Linked DNA regions of Homo sapiens. The protein of the gene in region 1 purifies or fractionates together with the protein of each later gene. This does not show direct contact. Each region holds a gene or a part of one and is shown on either strand. Other genes may lie near its edges.

What was found.
Region 2: the proteins of HMGCLL1 (region 1) and LSP1 purify together in Homo sapiens (affinity purification with mass spectrometry; one large-scale study listed by BioGRID and IntAct). This does not show direct contact.

Annotation. Positions count from the first base shown.
Region 1 is NC_000006.12:55,572,693-55,576,192, reverse strand, and holds part of HMGCLL1 (3-hydroxymethyl-3-methylglutaryl-CoA lyase, cytoplasmic), read left to right. Parts: intron 1-3,500. UniProt on the Homo sapiens protein: Non-mitochondrial 3-hydroxy-3-methylglutaryl-CoA lyase that catalyzes a cation-dependent cleavage of (S)-3-hydroxy-3-methylglutaryl-CoA into acetyl-CoA and acetoacetate, a key step in ketogenesis, the products of which support energy production in nonhepatic animal tissues.
Region 2 is NC_000011.10:1,880,584-1,884,083, forward strand, and holds part of LSP1 (lymphocyte-specific protein 1), read left to right. Parts: intron 1-848; coding exon 849-1,013; intron 1,014-2,835; coding exon 2,836-2,977; intron 2,978-3,348; coding exon 3,349-3,441; intron 3,442-3,500. UniProt on the Homo sapiens protein: May play a role in mediating neutrophil activation and chemotaxis.

The DNA of each region.
Region 1 (3,500 bases):
GCCAGCAGCTTTTGTTAGACTTCTATTGCATAGTAACCTATTGTAGATAATATGCATTATATATTTATTTTCATGATTACTTGATATTTAATTGCTTTGCAGATATTAAGCATAGTAAAACTAAGGAAGCAATTCACCACGGGATTCTCAACACTTATCAGAATGTCTGGTTAATTTTTTATGGCCAATAATACTTTTTGAATGAACAAATGAATTAATGTTTTCCCTTATAGGCCATAAGCATCACATGCCCATGAAGACCATGGACTTCTTCTTAGCATTTGTTCAAGGTCCAACAAAATGATTGGCACACTGTAGCATCATGATAAATATTTGCTAAGTGAATACAAAATCAGTGAGAATGGGGACATGGTATAGAGTTTGATCTTAGCACCAATCGATGAATATTATTACTGTTTTTCTCTCACCTTTTTGTCTCATAGGACCTCATAGTAGTTTAATGGAGAGATGAGGTAAAAATGGTTTCTGGAGGCTGTCAACACAGCAGAGAGCTTAACTAATTCTCTATTGTTGAATCTGGCAGAGAGAATCATGAATAAACCTGACTCCTGTAATATGAAATAATTTGATTGTAGTTAGAACAGATAGAAAATTCTGTATTTTGAAATAATTATGTGTGTGCAATAGAATATTGAAAACCTCGATATTTTTCTGTTACCAACTTATTCCATGGTTTTGTGTGTGCAAGAGCATGGCCACACCTTAATTTTTCAGCTTACATATTAGAGATAATATATCCCTGATGAATTATTAGACTTAAATTAAATATTGTGTGTATGAATATATACACATATACATATTAGAAGTTTAACAATGTACTATCAAATATAAAAAGAATAAATATGAATGAAAGGCTTATTCTATCACAGGTCCACTAATTAAATTATGTGGGTCTCTGTTTTTGCTAATGACAATGGTTTTGCAGAAAATTCCCTTAATAGACCAAGAGGTTGAAATTGCTCATTCTGTAATTCAAGCTATCTCTTAGGACCTGTTTTATTTTCTGTAGTTGTCTCTGTTAAAAAGAGTATAATGAAGCTGGCTTAATTGGCATGTTTTAAAGTTTTGATTAAATTTAAGTTTCCTAGTGAAGCGATCCCCCTTTGATTTTCAAGTGTTCCTTAAGCAATAACTAAATCTCTTCACATATTAATGCCCTTTTGCAAAAATAAAATTTCCAAAGACCTAAATTCTAATATAAATAATGTTTCAAACCTATTATATTTCTAAAATAAAGTAGTAGATTATGTGAGATTAAATTTATAGTTATTTTACATTCGATTCTGATCCTTTGTGTTACATTTGCTGTCAGCAAAAATTATGATTCAGCGTAAAGTTATTTGGTGCTAAAGGGTCTCTGGAATTTAAATGTATTATATTTCTGCTTAAATGTAATAAGATGATAATGTATCTTTATACTTTTGGCCTGCAACTGTGTAGTTGTTAGTACATTTACTAAATATTTTAGGATGATTGAGGAGGAATTTTCAGACAGGGACCAAACTGCCATCATACTGTTTTCTATTTGTCTCATGTATTCTTTATTTGTCTCCTTACCATTTTTTATTCTTTTCCAGCTTCTTTTGAAATCATGTAGCATTTTAATTTCTCATTTTCCCCCTGAATTGACATGTTAGTGATATACTTTTTTTTACTATACCCTTAATTGCTGTCTATAAGATGTCAACATACAACCGTGGCTTATTAAAATAATATATTAGTACTATTACAACTTATTAAAAATGCAAATATGACTCTTTAACTTCATTTTCTGTCCTCTGCCTTTTACGTTTTTGTTTCTATATACTTATTATCTATATGGTGTATTTACAATACATATGCATACAGTCAATATCCATTTATACTTGTGCACATATTTTCTCTTTTTATTCCTTTCTTCATCTCCATTTTTTCCTCAGATTACTTTCCTTCAACCAGAAGTATTTGTTTCAATATTTTCTTTAGTAAAAAAAGTACTAATATTGATTTTTTTCAGTTTTTCTTTGTTTGAAATTACATACACACATATACACTAATGTATATATATACACACACACATATATGATGTTTATAAGTATAAATGAATGTTTACTATAAACATAAGTTTTATCTAAAAAATTAACAGCCATGATAGCAGTGCAAAATGCAGATTTCTCAACAGATACAGTGGAAGCCAGTTACAATAAAATCAGCGATTTGTCTTATTTTTGGTCCTTTGATGATAATTTATCTTTCATTCTTTTATCTTTGTATTTGGTTTCTAATAGTATTACTATGGCATATCTAGGCATACTTTCTTTTGCATTCATCTGGCTAATAATGTACAACACTTCTTGGATCTATGACTTGATGTTTGTTGGGTTTCATATTTTGGAAGCTTTTCAACCATTTTTGCTTCGAATGTTGTTTGTTTCTTGTTTCCTTTTAAATCTTCTCCAGTTAGGCCTACAATTTGAAGAATATTAGAACTTTCTCTGTGCCTTATTTGTTTCTTACATTCATTTTTTTCATTCTTTCTTTTCTTCTCCGTATTCAATCTGAATATTTTCTTCTCATTTATATTCCATTTCAGTAATTTCTTCTTCAGCTTTGTTTAATTTGCTGTTAATCTAATTTATTGAGTTCTTAATTTCAGTTATTATATTTTGAGTTAAAGTGTTTCTATGATTTCTAAAAGATAGGCTTCAGTTCTCTGCCACAATTCTCTATCATATTATAAATTCTTGAATACTTATTAGAATTATTTTAGATCCCATGTCTGACAACTCCAATATCCAGATCTCCAGTTAGTCTGTTTTATGTATTTTCCTTCCTGGTATGCCTACGAAATTTAAATAATATGTTAGACACCTGGTATGAAAATAATTATAGATGTAATTTGAGACTCTGAATAATACTGTCCTTCTCAGGTGGGATTTCTCTTTGGTGTTATCAAACAATAAGCGTAGAGATAACTTAAATTAAGCTAATCAAGTGCTTACCTGATATGAGGTTTAGCCTACTTTACTTGTAAGGGCTTTACTTTTTTCTCTTCATCCTTACTTTTTGTATTCTGCAGTCATTCAGAGGTCCTAACTAAAACCTAAAATGTTTACCAGGGTTGCTCCTCCTTGCTGAGACCTGAATTCAAACTATTTCCACTCCAGCCTTGCTAGGCTCCTGGAAGATCTGATGGTTTTGGCTTCTCAGTTGCTCATACAGAATTGGCAAATGCCTCAAAAAGAAAAGTTCTGCTGACTGTTGGGCTCACCACTTTATTTTTTTCTCCTGCATAGTATATTGGCTGCTGAAATACTCATTAACCAAATTTCTGAGACTATTAGGTTTTCATTAATATTTTATCCAACTAATATAGTCATTGTCAGTGAGAGGTTTGTTGTGAACAAGCTAGTCAGCCATTATTGAAAGATTATATAATAAGGAAATTAAATTTAAAAATACCAATTGTGCAATTTAGTTTAAATTGTAAAAATATATTC
Region 2 (3,500 bases), on another chromosome or scaffold:
GCTTGCTTCCTCCTTGGGCCCAGGAGGCCTCCGCGGCTGGGCTGGGCTGTTTTTCCAATAATGCTTCCCTTCCTTCTGGCCTCTTTTGTTCCATTTTCTCCAAGTCAGCAGCCTTGGGCAGAGTGGGGTTCAGCGGTCACCATAGTCAGGCCCTTGGCCACCCCCACCAAGGGCCCCAGCTATCCAGGGGCTCCCCCTGCCACATGGGAGGCCTGAGAAGTCGGGGCTTAGGAGGACCTCATGTAGGGTCCTCATGTGGGGACCAGGGCAGCCCTTGGGGAGCCCCAGGATGATGGGGGAGGCACAGCCCTGCCCTAGGGAGCCCCAGACTGATGGGGGAAGCACAGCCCTGCTGTTAGGGAGCCACAGGCTGACGGGGGAGGCCCAGCCCTGCCCTAGCGAGTCCCAGAGTGATGGGGGAGGCACAGCCCTGCTCTTAGGGAGCCACAGGCTGACAGGGGAGGCACAGCCCTGTCCTCAGGGAGCCCTACACTGATCGAAGAGGCACAGCCTTACCCTCAGGGAGCCCCAAACTGATGAGGGAGGCATAGCCCTGCCCTCAGGTAGCCCCAGGCTGATGGAGGAGGCATAGCCCTGCTGAGCCTCAAGGAGTCCTGGACTGATGGAGGAAGCACAGTTCTCAGGCTGCCCCAGAACTGACGGGGGAGGCATAGCCCTGCCCTCAGGTATTCTGACCACAGGAGACACAGCCCAGAGCCAGCTCTGTGGCAGACAGGGTCTCCCACACTTGGAGTCCAGGGCCTGAGCGGGCGCCGTGAGGTGAGTGTGGGCCCTGGGCAGAGGAGGCAGCAGCCGCCCAGGCCTAAGCTCCCCCCTGCTACCCTCAGCCTCAGCCTGAAGCCCTCGGAGGCCCCTGAACTGGATGAGGACGAGGGCTTTGGCGACTGGTCCCAGAGGCCAGAGCAGCGGCAGCAGCACGAGGGGGCGCAGGGCGCCTTGGACAGCGGAGAGCCCCCCCAGTGCAGGAGTCCTGAGGGGGAGCAAGAGGACAGGTGAGTGAGGGCCTCGAGGGCGGGCGCTGGGCAGAGCAGGGCTCCCTCTGGACCTCGAGGGCGGGCGCTGGGCAGAGCAGGGCTCCCTCTGGACCTCGAGGGCGGGCGCTGGGCAGAGCAGGGCACCGCGGAGCTCCCTTCAGGCCCTCAACCTGCGCCTGAGCAGCCACCCCATCCTCCCCTTTCCAAGCAGAGCCTGAAATGCCCCCATGGCCAGGAAAGGGGGAGACAGGAGGGGAGGGAGGAAGAGGGCGAGACAGCATGGTGGCCGGCGAGGGGCCGCGAGGAAACCTCATTCTGGGGCTCCCCAGGGCCCCTGGGCCCCATCCAGGCAGCTGCGAGGCCAGGCCGGGTGCTGCCACATCAGCACACAGCTGCGGCCGCTTCCGTAATGGAGGCTGAGAGCCCGCCGCCGCCCCTTCCTCCCTCGGGGCTGGCTGATCTCCATTCCCACGGAGGGGAGCAGGTATTTCCAGATGTGCATGCCGGAGAGTCGGCCGGGAGGACGCACTTTCCAGATGTGGGGATGTGTGTGCCTGTCTCAACCCCAACAGGCCCAACAGGGGCTGCTCCCGAGCCCCACTTCACTACCCCTGCTCGGGGTCCTTGCCGCTCTCAGTCATCTGTGGCCATGATGGGGCTGACCCCACCCGCCCTGCAGGGCCTGGGCCATCTGGGACCCCAGCCCTGCTCAGGACCCCCTTGCCTTGAGTGGGACCAGAGCCCATGGCTGGGCTGACAGTTCTCCCTGGTCAGGGTCCTTCCTGGCCCCTCTGAGGCCCTAAACCAGCCTGGAGCTCTAGGGACCAGTGTTGCTGAGCGACGCTCCCTTGTCCTCCTACAACCAGGCTCCCACTCCCCAAGAACCACTGGTCCTGGCCTGGCGCAGTGCCCACCGCCCCCCTCCCTGGGCCTCAGTCTCCCCCCTACGTGCTTGGGAGTCAGCGGCTCTGCTTTTCTGAGATGGGGCAGCTCCCTTCTCCCTTGGCCTCAGGCCTAGGCGGGCGAGGCTGCTCCCACCAGCAGGGGGCGCTTTGACTCTTCCGTGGAGCCCAGCTCTGCGGCCGCCACCCCACCCCCTGCACCTGCCTGGCTGCACAGACCTGCTCCTGAATGGCCCCTCTGTGTGGCTGCTGCTGGCTCAGACCCCTGCCCACCTTGGGCGGGTGGGTCTGGGTCTTGGCTGGCACGCACACCCAGGGGCCTGAAATCATGGAAAATTCGAGAATTTCCCATCTTCTCCTCCAGGTTCAGTCCTGCTCAAATGCAGAGCCGCTCAAAGCTGCCAGCTGGCTGGCCTCCCCTCCCCCGCAGCCGGCAGCCCCTTGGCCCTGCTCCTCAGTGACCTGGCCCCTACCCCTGCCTAGCCCTCCAAATGACCCAGCCTCCAGTCCCCCAAACACCCAAGGGCCCCCACAGGGAGCAGAGCAGGAGTGGTGGCCCCAGCAGCCCGGCCTCGCGGGGACCCCGTCAGACCAACCGGGTGTGCAAGCAGCTGCCAAGCTGAGGCCCAGCCACAAAGCTGGGGATTGAACCCAGCCTCAGTGCCTGGGGGACCCTCAGTCTGTAGAGCCCTGTCTGGCAGGGACTGGGCAGTTCCCCAGGGGCCTCAGGCCCTGACACAGGGGCCCAAGCAGACTGCGCTGGCTCTGAGGCCACTGGACCTTCTTTCCCAATGGGCTTGGGTCTCAGATCCCTTGGCACTCAAGTAGCCTGACTACCTTCATTTTACAGATGGGGAAACTGAGGCTTGGAAAAAGGAAGGGGTCAACCAAGCAATCCAATGGCCCTAGAACGGCTTTGCCTCCCTTTCCACCCACAGGCCCGGCCTGCATGCCTACGAAAAGGAGGACAGTGATGAAGTCCACCTGGAGGAGTTGAGTCTGAGCAAGGAGGGGCCAGGCCCAGAGGACACTGTCCAGGACAACCTGGGGGCCGCAGGGGCTGAGGAGGAACAGGAGGAGGTGATGGCTCCACCTCAGAGGGTCTGGGTGTACCCCCACCCCAGGGATGAGTCTGCCTTGGCTGTCTGCACCACTCTGTGGGCCCTGTGGGTCTAGCCCAGAGTGGGTCAGCACCCCACACCCCTAGACCTTGCAGCCCCTTCTGGGCCCACATTCTCAGAGAGGGCAAGGCTCAGTGATCCTCTTGCAAGATCCGGAGACATCTCTCCAGACTCCTCAGTCCCTCCCCACCAGCTCCAGAACTGGAGCACGTCAGGGCCACAGAGAACCTGGGGCTCAGGAAGGAACAGCATTTGTTCCCACAGGTGCTGGGCAGGGCAGGAGGGGCACAAGCAGGGGGTCACTTGGGATGTCTGTTTTTTTTTTTCTAGCACCAGAAATGTCAGCAGCCCAGGACACCCAGCCCCTTGGTCTTGGAGGGGACCATCGAACAGAGCTCGCCTCCCCTGAGCCCTACCACCAAAGTAAGTTAAGCTGCAAAGCCTGCCATCTTCTCCCCTCTCCCGTACTCATACCCAAAAGG